Linked DNA regions of Homo sapiens: region 1 is reported to be linked to region 2. Evidence: microRNA targets listed by miRTarBase, many of them from high-throughput screens and not tested one by one. Region 2 holds a microRNA gene; the other region holds the end of a gene's coding sequence.

Region 1 (5,380 bases), not on the chromosome of region 2:
TTGAGAAGTGTCTGTTCATGTCCTTTGCCCACTTTTTAATGGGGTTGTTTTCTTGTACATTTAAGTTCTTTGTAGACCTTTGTCAGTTGCATAGTTTGCAAAAATTTTCTCCCATTCTGTAGGTTGTCTGTTTACTCTGTTGATAGTTTCTTTTGCTGTGTAGAAGCTCTTTAGTTTAATTAGATCTCATTTGTCAATTTTTGCTTTTGTTGCAATTTCATGATGGAAACACCAAAAGCAATCTTTGCTCATACCTATGTCCTGAATAGTATTTGCCTAGGTTGTCTTCCAGGGTTTTTCTAATGACTCTGAGGACATGAGCTCTTTCTTCCTATCCCTGCAATATTCCTCTTTATTGCCTTCTCCCATGTCTCTGCATTGATCTCTCTCTGTTCGGGGCTCAGAGGCCCCGCTGTGGGGGCACCAATTGCATGGGAGGGAAAGGTGAACCTCCTGGAGTTGTATGTTATGGAGGCCCCGCTCCCCTCATGTCTGAGGAGCCTTAGTGCTAGAATGCTCATTAGATGCTTGATGAGGTCATTGCCTTACAGACTTTATTTTGGGGATTAGGGTGGTGAGCTGGCTGTTTCATTAGAATTGTAGACTCTTGGAAGTTTCTCTTGAATTATTTTTTTCCAAATAATTTCATTGGGTAGTTATCAAGCTTGGGTGGCTTCTTCTGGAGTGAGATTTAGGGGCCTGAATCTCAATAAATACCTATTATCAACCCTGAACCTCACCCTCCTTGTGGCAAATTTCTCTAGTCTGTTTCTTCAGGGTGGGAATGGGAGAGCCTGGATTTGAATGTCAGGCACAACTCTTGATAACCGAAAAGTAAGTAGCTCCTCAAGCCCACCCACCCTCCTCTGCCCAAAGAAAACATTCCCCCTGCCCCTATACCTTAGATATTATCTGGTTCTTAATTTTCTGATTTCTTTCTAGAAATGAGAAAGAAGTTTGACGACGGAGAAGATCCTTTGGATGCAGAGAGCCAGCAAGGAGGCGGCGGCAACCCTTTCCACAGAAGCTGGAACTCATGGCAAGGGTTCAATCCCTTCAGCTCAGGCGGACCATTTAGATTTAAATTCCACTTCAATTAAACCAACTGTTTTTCTGCTCTTCTTAATTTTTTTAAAGATTAAAAACAAAGAAATCTTGTTCCGGGACCCTAATGAAAAAAAATTTCAAATCTTTTCAGTTTGTCCATGACCAAAGAGTTGCTTTAATAGGAAAAAATCTGTTCTTATCCCTGTCAGATTTATGGTTAATGGGTTTGCAACGGCAAGGAGGCAAGGAATGGTTCTATTTCTGACAGAGCAGCCTGCATCTGCTTTATGCTGTCTGGAGGGAAGTGGTCTGAGGCAGGCTCACCCGTGGAAGTGCTCACGTATTCTGTATTATTTTTCTACACTGGAGCTGAGATTCTTCTCTTCACAGCCTTGCAGAGTAAGTCAGTGCCTACAAGTGTAAGAAGGAGCTGTAATCTTCATGAGGATGGTTATACTTCAGTATTCTTAAAGAGAACATGAACATTTTTGAGCTGTATGTTCTTAGGGACAACTGTGCTTCGATGTGGTCAGTCTCGTCACTTGTGAGTAGCTGTGAAATCTTTAGTGTGCATGTGTTTGCACCTCTGTGGTCTGTCAACGTGGCTGTCACTGAAGGAGCAAGAGACCATCTTTTAGGAACCCTGCCACCAAATAATAATATATCCAGGCTTAGACTTTGGATTAATGTTAAATGTACATTTTTTTGGTTCAGTACCTGAAGAAGAATACTGAAACTTGAATCTATAAATTCCTATGGACCCTTTTAATATTAAACACAACAAATTAAAAGTTGTTATAGGTAAAATAAGTTCAGATAAAATAGTGGTGGTATTTAAAATAATATTGCTGAAGTGCAGATTGAAATACTTTTTAAACAACTGAAGTTCTGAGTTTTTATAGGGAATTTCATGTAACAAGACTGGTTTAGAAACGTAAAGTTGCGCAGTCAACATAAATAAATACAGAATGCCATGTTCTCCACTTCTAAGTAAAGACAGTGGGCAGCTTCTGTTTCTCCTTCTATCAAGGCTTCACCCTATCTTAAAGGTCTGTGGTGCCTCCCACGTGGGACCTGTCTGCTGGTATGTGTTAAACAGCAGACCGGCCCTTCTACCAGATCTTGATGCCTCTGATTTTCTCCTGCCTACAAGAAAATACAGGCAAGGTTAGTCAGGTCTGGCTATATTTCCACTGTTGTTTCATTTAATAAGATGGCATCTCCTCTTGAGATATGTTCTTCTTACCTTTTAAGAAGATACTATTTAAGAAGTGAACTATTCAGTCTTTGTATACTGAATGCTTTTTCCCTAAAAAATGTTAATCAAGAATATTGAATATTTATGGCACTCTTGATGCTGCATTTGAAAGCTGAAGGAATTACTTTAGATAGATAGGAATTGCTACCTTTATTCTGGAAAGGTTTTGTTTCTGCCTCAAAGCATTTTGAAGTGTTTTAACCATTAAAGGGTCTAATTTTTTTTTCTTAATGAAATCAAGCATTTTAATTCACTGTGGGAGGCATCCTGACCACGGACATCCATAACAGCAAAGCACAAATCGTTTTCGTCTGTAGTCATATCCTGAAACATAGGTGGACAAATTTTTAACTGAGAGACAAAAATCACATAGTTGAATTGAGCAGAACACTTAAGTGCTTTCTGCATCTATTTAGGAGTCTATTTCTTACCAATAAACTTGACAACGCATTTGGAAAACTAGTGAACACCTTACAGCTTTCATTTTGCTTTAATGTTTCAATTCAAGCCGGTGTAAAAATAATTTCCAAGGCATTTCTGTTTATTCTTTAGTAATCTCACTACTGGCTATGTCAGCAATATCTTTTTCAATCTGGTTCCTTTTGTATATGATGTCACTGTGACCTCTTTGAAATATAGTGATGGCTTTTACCTACTTTGAAAAGAATTTTCACATAGAGTCAGAAAAAAAAGGAAATATCAAATCACTTGCCTTTCCACTTGGAGAGCACGACAGTTGCCAACAACAAGGGGTCAAGGGCCGCACAGGAGATGTGTGGGGGCCTGGCCACCTCCCACCTGCTGCCCAGAGGCTTGTTTGCATTTTCATTTTTTCTCCACTTGTAACAACCATAGTTTCAGCTCCTAAATTCTTATCATGGATTTACTTAGTCATCTTAACTGACCTGCAGTTACTTGCCTGTTTTCAGTGAAGAGAGAGAAGCAGCTCTGGTGCCACATGCCAGTGCCATGGAGGGAAATGAATTCTCTGCAATCTGTTGTTTCGCTGATTCATGAAGAAAGTAACAACTGTTGAGTTTCAGCCTTGATGGCTGTCGGCAGTTTTCTGGTGTCCACCCAAACGGAGAGACAGTCACTCCTGCTTACCCTAATGTGTGACTGAGAAGCAGCCTGGGTGTGTAAAGAGATAGTCATTCCCCCTGCCTGTCTCACTGTAGGGTAGCATTATCCACTGTAAAACCATACTACTTTCATTTTCCCTTGGGGACTACAGGTGCCAGGTAACCTTTTTTTTTTTTTTTTTTTTTTTTTGAGACAGAATCTTGCTCTGTTGCCCAGGCTGGAGTGCAGGGACACCTCCCGGGTTCAAGCAGTTCTCCTGCCTCAGCCTCCAAGTAGCTGGGACTATAGGCACGCACCACCATGCCTGGCTAATTTTTGTATTTTTAGTAGAAATGGGGTTTCACTGTGTTAGCCAGGATGGTCTTGATCTCCTGACCTTGTGATCTGCCCGCCTTGGCCTTCCAAAGTGTTGGGATTACAGGCGTGAGCCACTGCGCCTGGCCATCAGGTAACCTTTATGGCTCTTTCAGGAAAAGTGAAATCAGAGAGGCGTACCCTAGCCACAGCTGTTGTATTCTGCTCTTCTTTCCTTTTTGGTGAGCTTCATGGGTGGAGTTATCAGTGGTCTGTACTTTGTGGATATTTTGCCCAGCAGGAAGTATTAGACACATCAGTCTAGAAGCATTGTGAAAAGGTTCCAAAACGGGAGACAAAATTTAATTCATTCCTCAGTTCTGAAAGTTTGTGCTTTCTTACCATGAATAGATGAAAACTTGAAAAAAATCTTGACAGTTTACTAATGTGAATCAGATGTAACGTACTACTAATTCTACAATGCCTTTCTCTTTAGTCAGTATTAAAAATCTTTTTTAAAGTATTGGTATGAAAACAAATTTTTGTTGCCCTGATAATGGAATTTTAAAACTACCCACAGTTTAAGAGAAAACATAACTTGGTAAAAAAGGTAGCCAATAAAACCACAATTTGAAATTGATACCATTTTCTACTCACAATGGATGATGAAAAATTTCACCTTTAAATGGGTCAGAAGTTGTCTTTGACATTTACCATGAAAAAACTACATAAAATGGCTCCCTGGTGAGGTTACAGACACGGCCCTGGTGATGGGCGTTGCAAAGTTTTCACTGAGCACACAGCAATGGTATCACCTAGAGAAGTTCACGCAACTTTGTTGAATGTAGTTGACTTTTCCAAATTTATAAAGGAAGGAAGAAGGCAAATGTTAATTTGCCAACAACGAATATCCTTTTTCTAAATCAGATCATTCCTTTTTTGTTAGTGGCAGTTTATCCTGTAATTTCAAATGACGTTAAGAGGTGGGATTATTTGGGGGTTTTTTTTGTTTGTTTACAGATGATCTCATTTGCTGAATGATTGATTTAAGAGTAAAATTAGCCACTGCGTGGCTTTGTGTATAGTAACCGGTTTTGTTGCACTTGTCTGTGGCTGAAACACTTACCTGCAGTGGAAAGCCGAGCAAGGAGGAGGTAAACATTGGAGATGTTTGTGAAAATATTACTCTTGCTGTGAGGTTTTAGTTTGTTTTGAATGAGAAAAGACTAAGTAACTTAATCCATCTCAATGTAGTGTTTTAATAAAAAAGGAACCTAATATTTGAAATGGGTCTCAGACATGTCTACAAATATGGGTACTATTTTTATGCCCGTGTATTTTCACATTTAATAAAAATATTTATGGTCATATCAGTATTTCCTTGCTTTTGATTCATTTTTGTCCTTGAGTATAAAATTCTAAGAAAGTCCGTCTTAGGAAAAGTCTATTATTTCCAGCTTTGCTTCACGCAAAACCAGTGACTGAGGTGACAAAAGGGCTCTTCCTTTACACAAGTTGACAGGGAAGGTCAGAACACACAAAGCAGAAAGGGCTAAAATAAAATCTCTTAACCCTCAAAAGTCCTAGGACAACTAAGGACTTAAAAAGTGGACAAGTCTTCCATTTCAGTGCTATTAAAATGTAACACTTAAATTGGCTTTGTCTGAAGATTTTCTCTTCTCTTTTATACCCCATTTG
Region 2 (5,380 bases):
CTGGCTGAATGAGGGAATCCATCCAGAAGCCCACGATGGTGAAAATTTCTGCAAGTAGAACCCCAGGTAGAATATGGCTGCTGGGGGTGAGTACATGAGGTACCCATCTGGCCTCTCAAGCCCCTACATTGTAAAGTACTATGAAGGCAGAGTGTGGCGGAGGTGCTCTTGGAGATCAGAGTGTGCATGAGGTAGAGGAATGCTCGCACTGACCTGCCCTGCATGGGTGCAAAGGACACATAATCTGGCACATCTACTGGATGGATTCCAGGGAGGAGGCAGAGACAGGTGGAATACCCACTGCTCAAGTCCACAGTGGGGCTCAGCAGTGCAGAAACTGGACTCAAACCCCAGGTCTACCACCTTAATCAGTCCTGCCCTCATCTGGGACTCAGTCTCCCCATCTGTAAGCCATGGATGCTGTGCCGCTGGCCTTCCAGGGCCACTAACCACTATCAGGCTCTTGTCGTGCTGGGCCCCAAGCACAGTGGGTGACTTCCATCGCCTCATTTCAGCTTCGACCTGCTCTCAGAAGGAGGTACTGCTGTGATTCTGTTGCAGATGGGGAAACTGAAATCCAGCTGAGGGAAGGTGTTGAGTAACTGGTACAGGATCACAGTTAGCTAGTGGCCCAGTTGGGATTTCAGCTCCAGAATGTTCTCCTCCAGGTCCACAGGCAGTCTCCCCTGCTCCCCCAGCCATCTGCTTGGCCCTGTCTCCCCCTTCCTTCCTCTATCCAGAAACATCACACCACCTGCTTTTACCAGAATACACCAGTGCAAATCACACTGCCAGGCCTTTGACCCCACCATTCCCTCTGCATTTTACCCTTTCTCTGAGCTTTGGCCAACCCTGTGGGAGGATGGGGCCACTCCCTCCTTCCTCTCCCTGTCTCTGTGACATCTGCTTGGGCATAGACCAACCTCTGTTCCAGAGAGGCCTGTTTCTCCCAGAGCTGAACAAATTATCCTAACAGTTGCAGTTACCATTTATTTAATCTGTGCCAGGCACCATTTCAGGTGCTGCACGGGTATTGCCTTGTATCTCGCAACACCACTAAGGTGGGCGTTTTTATTACAATCCCCATTTTACCCATGAGTAAACTGAGGCACAAGGGAGTCACATGGCCAGGAAGAGCAGCAGCGGTTGGATCTACTGAGCCTTGATGATGCAGCTGTATCCAGACTCCACATTCCTCCTGCACACTGCACGTTTCCTCCCAGTGTGTGGTATGCCCACCTCCTATCTGTTGCCAATAGGCCAGGCCAAGCCCATCTGAGACGAGCCACCACTCCCTGCTCTGGATTGTCCCAAGGCTGGGTCTTCCCTGCATCCCACTGGACCTCCCTGGGTTGGGATGTTTGTGTGGGTCTCTGTGAGTAACAGTGCCCAGCTGAGCCTGGGGCAGGTCTGACCCACCCAAATCCTGGAGGCCAGCCCAGGGTGGGCATAGAGAAGGTACACAGGGACATCTGGTATTTCCGTCACCCCCAACAGCCACCCCAGGCACCCAGGCCCTCGTCTGGTTTCCTCTGAGAAACAGCCAGTTGCTCACTGTTAGTCCCTGGGATTTGGTTGGCCAAACACAAACATAAGATCCCAACCAGGCCAGTGGGGGCTCAGACCAGGGACCTCTTATTGTTATTACCCCGGGGTTTCTACATTGGTAAGACATAAGCCTGGGGTTCCTGGCTATCTTTAACCCCTTTGGAAAGAGAACCTAAAATAAGAATGAAGCTAACACAGAAAAAACCAACTGAGAAACAGAACAAGAGAGGAAGAAGAGAGTTCTGATGCTGTCAACAGATCTTCTGGATATAGCCGTATCTGCTGCCTCCTTACCCTTCTTTGCTTCAGCCCATTTCAGCTCGCTTTTGGTCACCTGCAACCAAAACACACCTGTCTACAACAGTGTGTGAGAGTTACGGTAAAGTACAAATGTGAGAATGGGTGCATGAGCAACCCCAAACCAGAGCCCTGTGCTCCCATGTTCCTGTCCAGGGTGTATCTCTGGTGTGCCGTGAAGCTGCCCACGGCGCCCCTTTACCTCTCTTGTCCAGCACCTGAGTCAGATCCTCCACCAGCACAGCGGCTTCCTCTCCGCTCTTGGGACTCTGGGCTCCCACCCAGGCTTGGATCTCTGGGGGCAGCGCACCCAGGAACTGCTCCAGCACCAGCAGCTCCAGTATCTGCTCCTTGGAGTGCGCCTCGGGCTGCAGCCACTGACAGCACAGCGCTCGGAGGTGGGCCAGGGCCTCGTGTGGACCAGATGCCTCCTCATAGCGGAAGTGCCGGAAGCGCAGGCGTGCAGCCTCAGAGTGAGCAATGTGGTCATGGCTGGATTCTCCGCCCTGGGAGAGGCTGGCTTCCTCTTCCTCCTCCACCTTCACTTGAAGGAAGCTGTCCTCTTCCCACGGCACTGGGCTCAGGGAGTGCTTGGGGATGGCCATCGGGCAGCAGTGCTCAGTGAGACACAGGATGCCGGAGCCTTGGAACTGGGCCTGCAGGAATGTCAGAGCTTCAGCATCACATGGAACCTGGGCCCTGCCTCATGCCTACAGAGCAGGGAAAACACAGGCTTGTGGCCCGTGAGATGTGAAAGACTCTCACAAAGACATAGACAATCCTCATAATTAGGACAGCACCCACTTGGTGCTGAGCACTGTTCTAAGCTACTACTGCTTGCATGTAGACTCATTTAAAACTTACAACAAACACCATCCTGGCTAACATGGTGAAACCCCGTCTCTACTAAAAATACAAAACAAATTAGCCAGACGTGGTGGCGGGCACCTGTGGTCCCAGCTACTCAGGAGGCTGAGGCAGGAGAATGGCGTGAACCCGGGAGGCGGAGCTTGCAGTGAGCCGAGACTACGCCACTGCACTCCAGCCTGCGCAACAGAACAAGACTCTGTCTCAAAACAAAAACAAACAAACAAAAAACTTACAACAAACTCAGGAGGTGGGACTTTCTACCTATTTTATGGATGGAAAAACAGACACTCAGGAGGAAAATATTTGCCCAAAGTCCCTCAGCTAGTGAAGGGTTAACAGAGAGCTAAGCTACAAACCCACGCAAACCTACAGCCAGCCTGTTTAAGGCGTGCTCCTCCCCAACAGAGCCAAGTCTTTCTCCCTCTGTTCCCCAGGTAGCCACATGGTCATTCTCTCACTTTACTTGCTAATTATTTTGTAGTGTTTGAGATTGATACATAATTGACTTTCGCCTTTCCTCTTTTCTAATGCACATATTTAAGGCTATAAATTTCTCTCTAAACACAGCTTTAGCTATACATCACAAGTTTGATATGTTGTATCTTCATTATCATTTAGTTAAAAATATTTTCTAATTTCTGTTACAATTTCTACCTTACTCATTAATTATTTTTTAAAATTTATTTTATTTTTTTGAGACGGAGTCTCCCTCTGTCGCCCAGGCTGGAGGGCAGTGACGCTATCTCGGCTCACTGCAACTCCGCCTCCCGGGTTCAAGCAATCCTCCTGCCTCAGCCTCCCAAGTAGCTGGAACTACAGGTGTGCACCACCATGTGAGGCTAATTTTTGTATTTTTAGTGGAGACGGGGTTTTGCCATGTTGGCGGGGCTGGTCTCGAACTCCTGACCTCAAGCGATCTGCCTGCCTCGGCCCCACAGAGTGCTGGGATTACAAGCATGAGTCACCATGCCCAGTCCCATTGGTTATTTATTTAAAACTCTCCTGCTTCATTGCCAAACAACTGGGGGTTTTCTAGTTGTCTTTTTATTACTGATGTCTAGATTAAGTCTGTTGTGGTCAGAAAACATGCTACAATGGATTTCGATCATTTAAAATTTGCTGAAACTTGGTTTGTGACCCAGTGTATGGTTAATTTTGGTTAATGTTCCATGAATACTTGAAAATAATGCAAAGCTGTCTTAGCTATGACACCAAAAGCATAAGTAACAAAAGAAAAAATAAATAAACTGGACTTTATCAAAATTAAAAGCTTTTGTGATTTGAAGGACCACATCAAGAAAGTAAAAAAGCAGCCCACAGAGTGGGAGAAAATATTTGCAAATCATATATTTGATAAGGGACCTGTATCTAGAACAACTCCATAGTAAAAAGATGAATAATACAATTTTAAAATGAGCAAAGAATGTGACTAGACATTTCTCCAAGGAAGATACACAAATGGGCAATAAATACATGAAAAGATGCTTAACATCACTAGCTACCAGGGAACTGCAAATGAAAACCACAATGAGATAGCACTTCACACCTGCTGGGATGCCTATAATCAGATAACATGTGTAGGCAAGGATATGGAGAAACTGTAATCCTCATATGCTGCTGCTGGGAATGTAAGATGGGATAGCCACTGTGGGAAGTACAGTCTGGGAGTTCCTCAAAAGCTTAAACAGAGTTACCCCATGACCTAGCAATTCTACTCCTACGTATAGACCCAAGAGAAATGAGTATATGTCCTCACAAAACTTTATACATAAATGTGCATAACAGCATTACTCATAACAGCAAAAAAGGAGAAACAATCCAAATGTCCACCTGATGAATGGATAAAATGCTGTATATACCTATAATGGAACACTATTCACCATAAACAGAAATGAAGTACTGATTAATGCTACAACATGGATGAACCTTGAAAACATGATGCTAAGTAAAAGAAGAAAGACACGGCAGGGCACGGTGGCTCACACCTGTGATCCCAGCACTTTGGGAGGCCGAGGTGGGTAGATCACCTGAGGTCAGGAGTTCAAGACCAGCCTGGCCAACACAGTGAAACCCCGTCTCTACTAAAAAATACAAAAATTAGCTGGGTGTGGTGGCAGGCACCTGTAATCCCAACTACTCAGGAGGCTGAGGCAGGAGAATCTCTTGAACTTGGGAGGCAGAGGTTGCAGTGAGCCGAGAGTACACCACTGCACTACAGCCTTGGCGACAGAGGTAGACTCCATCTCAAAAAAAAAAAAAAAAAAAAAAAGCATATTAGTGTTTGTCAGAGGCTGAAGAGAGACAAAAATGAGAGTGGTTGCTAATAGGTTTGGGAATTTCTTTTGGGGATGATAAAAATGTTCTGGAGGCCAGGCGCGGTGGCTCACGCCTGTAATCCCAGCACTCTGGGAGACCGAGGCGAGTAGATCACGAGGTCAGGAGTTCAAGACCAGCCTGACCAATATGGAGAAACCCCATCTATACTAAAAATACAAAATCAGCCGGGCGTGGTGGTGCATGCCTGTAATCCCAGCTACTTGGGAGGCTGAGGCAGAAGAAACCCTTTAACCTGGAAGGTGGAGGCTGCAGTAAGCCGAGATTCTGCCATTGCACTCCAGCCTGGGCAACAAGAGTGAAACTCCATCTCAAAAAATAAAATAAAATA

What was found. Region 2 holds the annotated microRNA hsa-miR-6806-3p (UGAAGCUCUGACAUUCCUGCAG, at 2,502-2,523, opposite strand). A microRNA usually pairs through its seed, bases 2 to 8, with sites in the 3' UTR of a target mRNA and lowers its output. Matches are read on the target gene's strand: a 7mer-m8 pairs with bases 2 to 8, a 7mer-A1 pairs with bases 2 to 7 and ends in A, and an 8mer does both.
Region 1: miRTarBase lists DNAJC3 as a target of hsa-miR-6806-3p. Seed matches in the 3' UTR shown: 8mer at 3,927-3,934.

The regions. Positions count from the first base shown.
Region 1 is chr13:95,789,931-95,795,310 of GRCh38, forward strand. It overlaps DNAJC3 (DnaJ heat shock protein family (Hsp40) member C3), which reads left to right. Exons shown (of 12, transcript NM_006260.5): 12 at 943-5,058. The coding sequence ends at 1,100. Among named protein-coding and RNA genes, the nearest start is that of DNAJC3, 120 kb to the left of the region's middle.
Region 2 is chr19:58,331,873-58,337,252 of GRCh38, reverse strand. It overlaps MIR6806 (microRNA 6806), which reads right to left and starts at 2,565; the gene lies at 2,502-2,565. ZSCAN22 (zinc finger and SCAN domain containing 22) reads right to left here. Exons shown (of 3, transcript NM_181846.3): 2 at 2,048-2,501. The coding sequence starts at 2,450.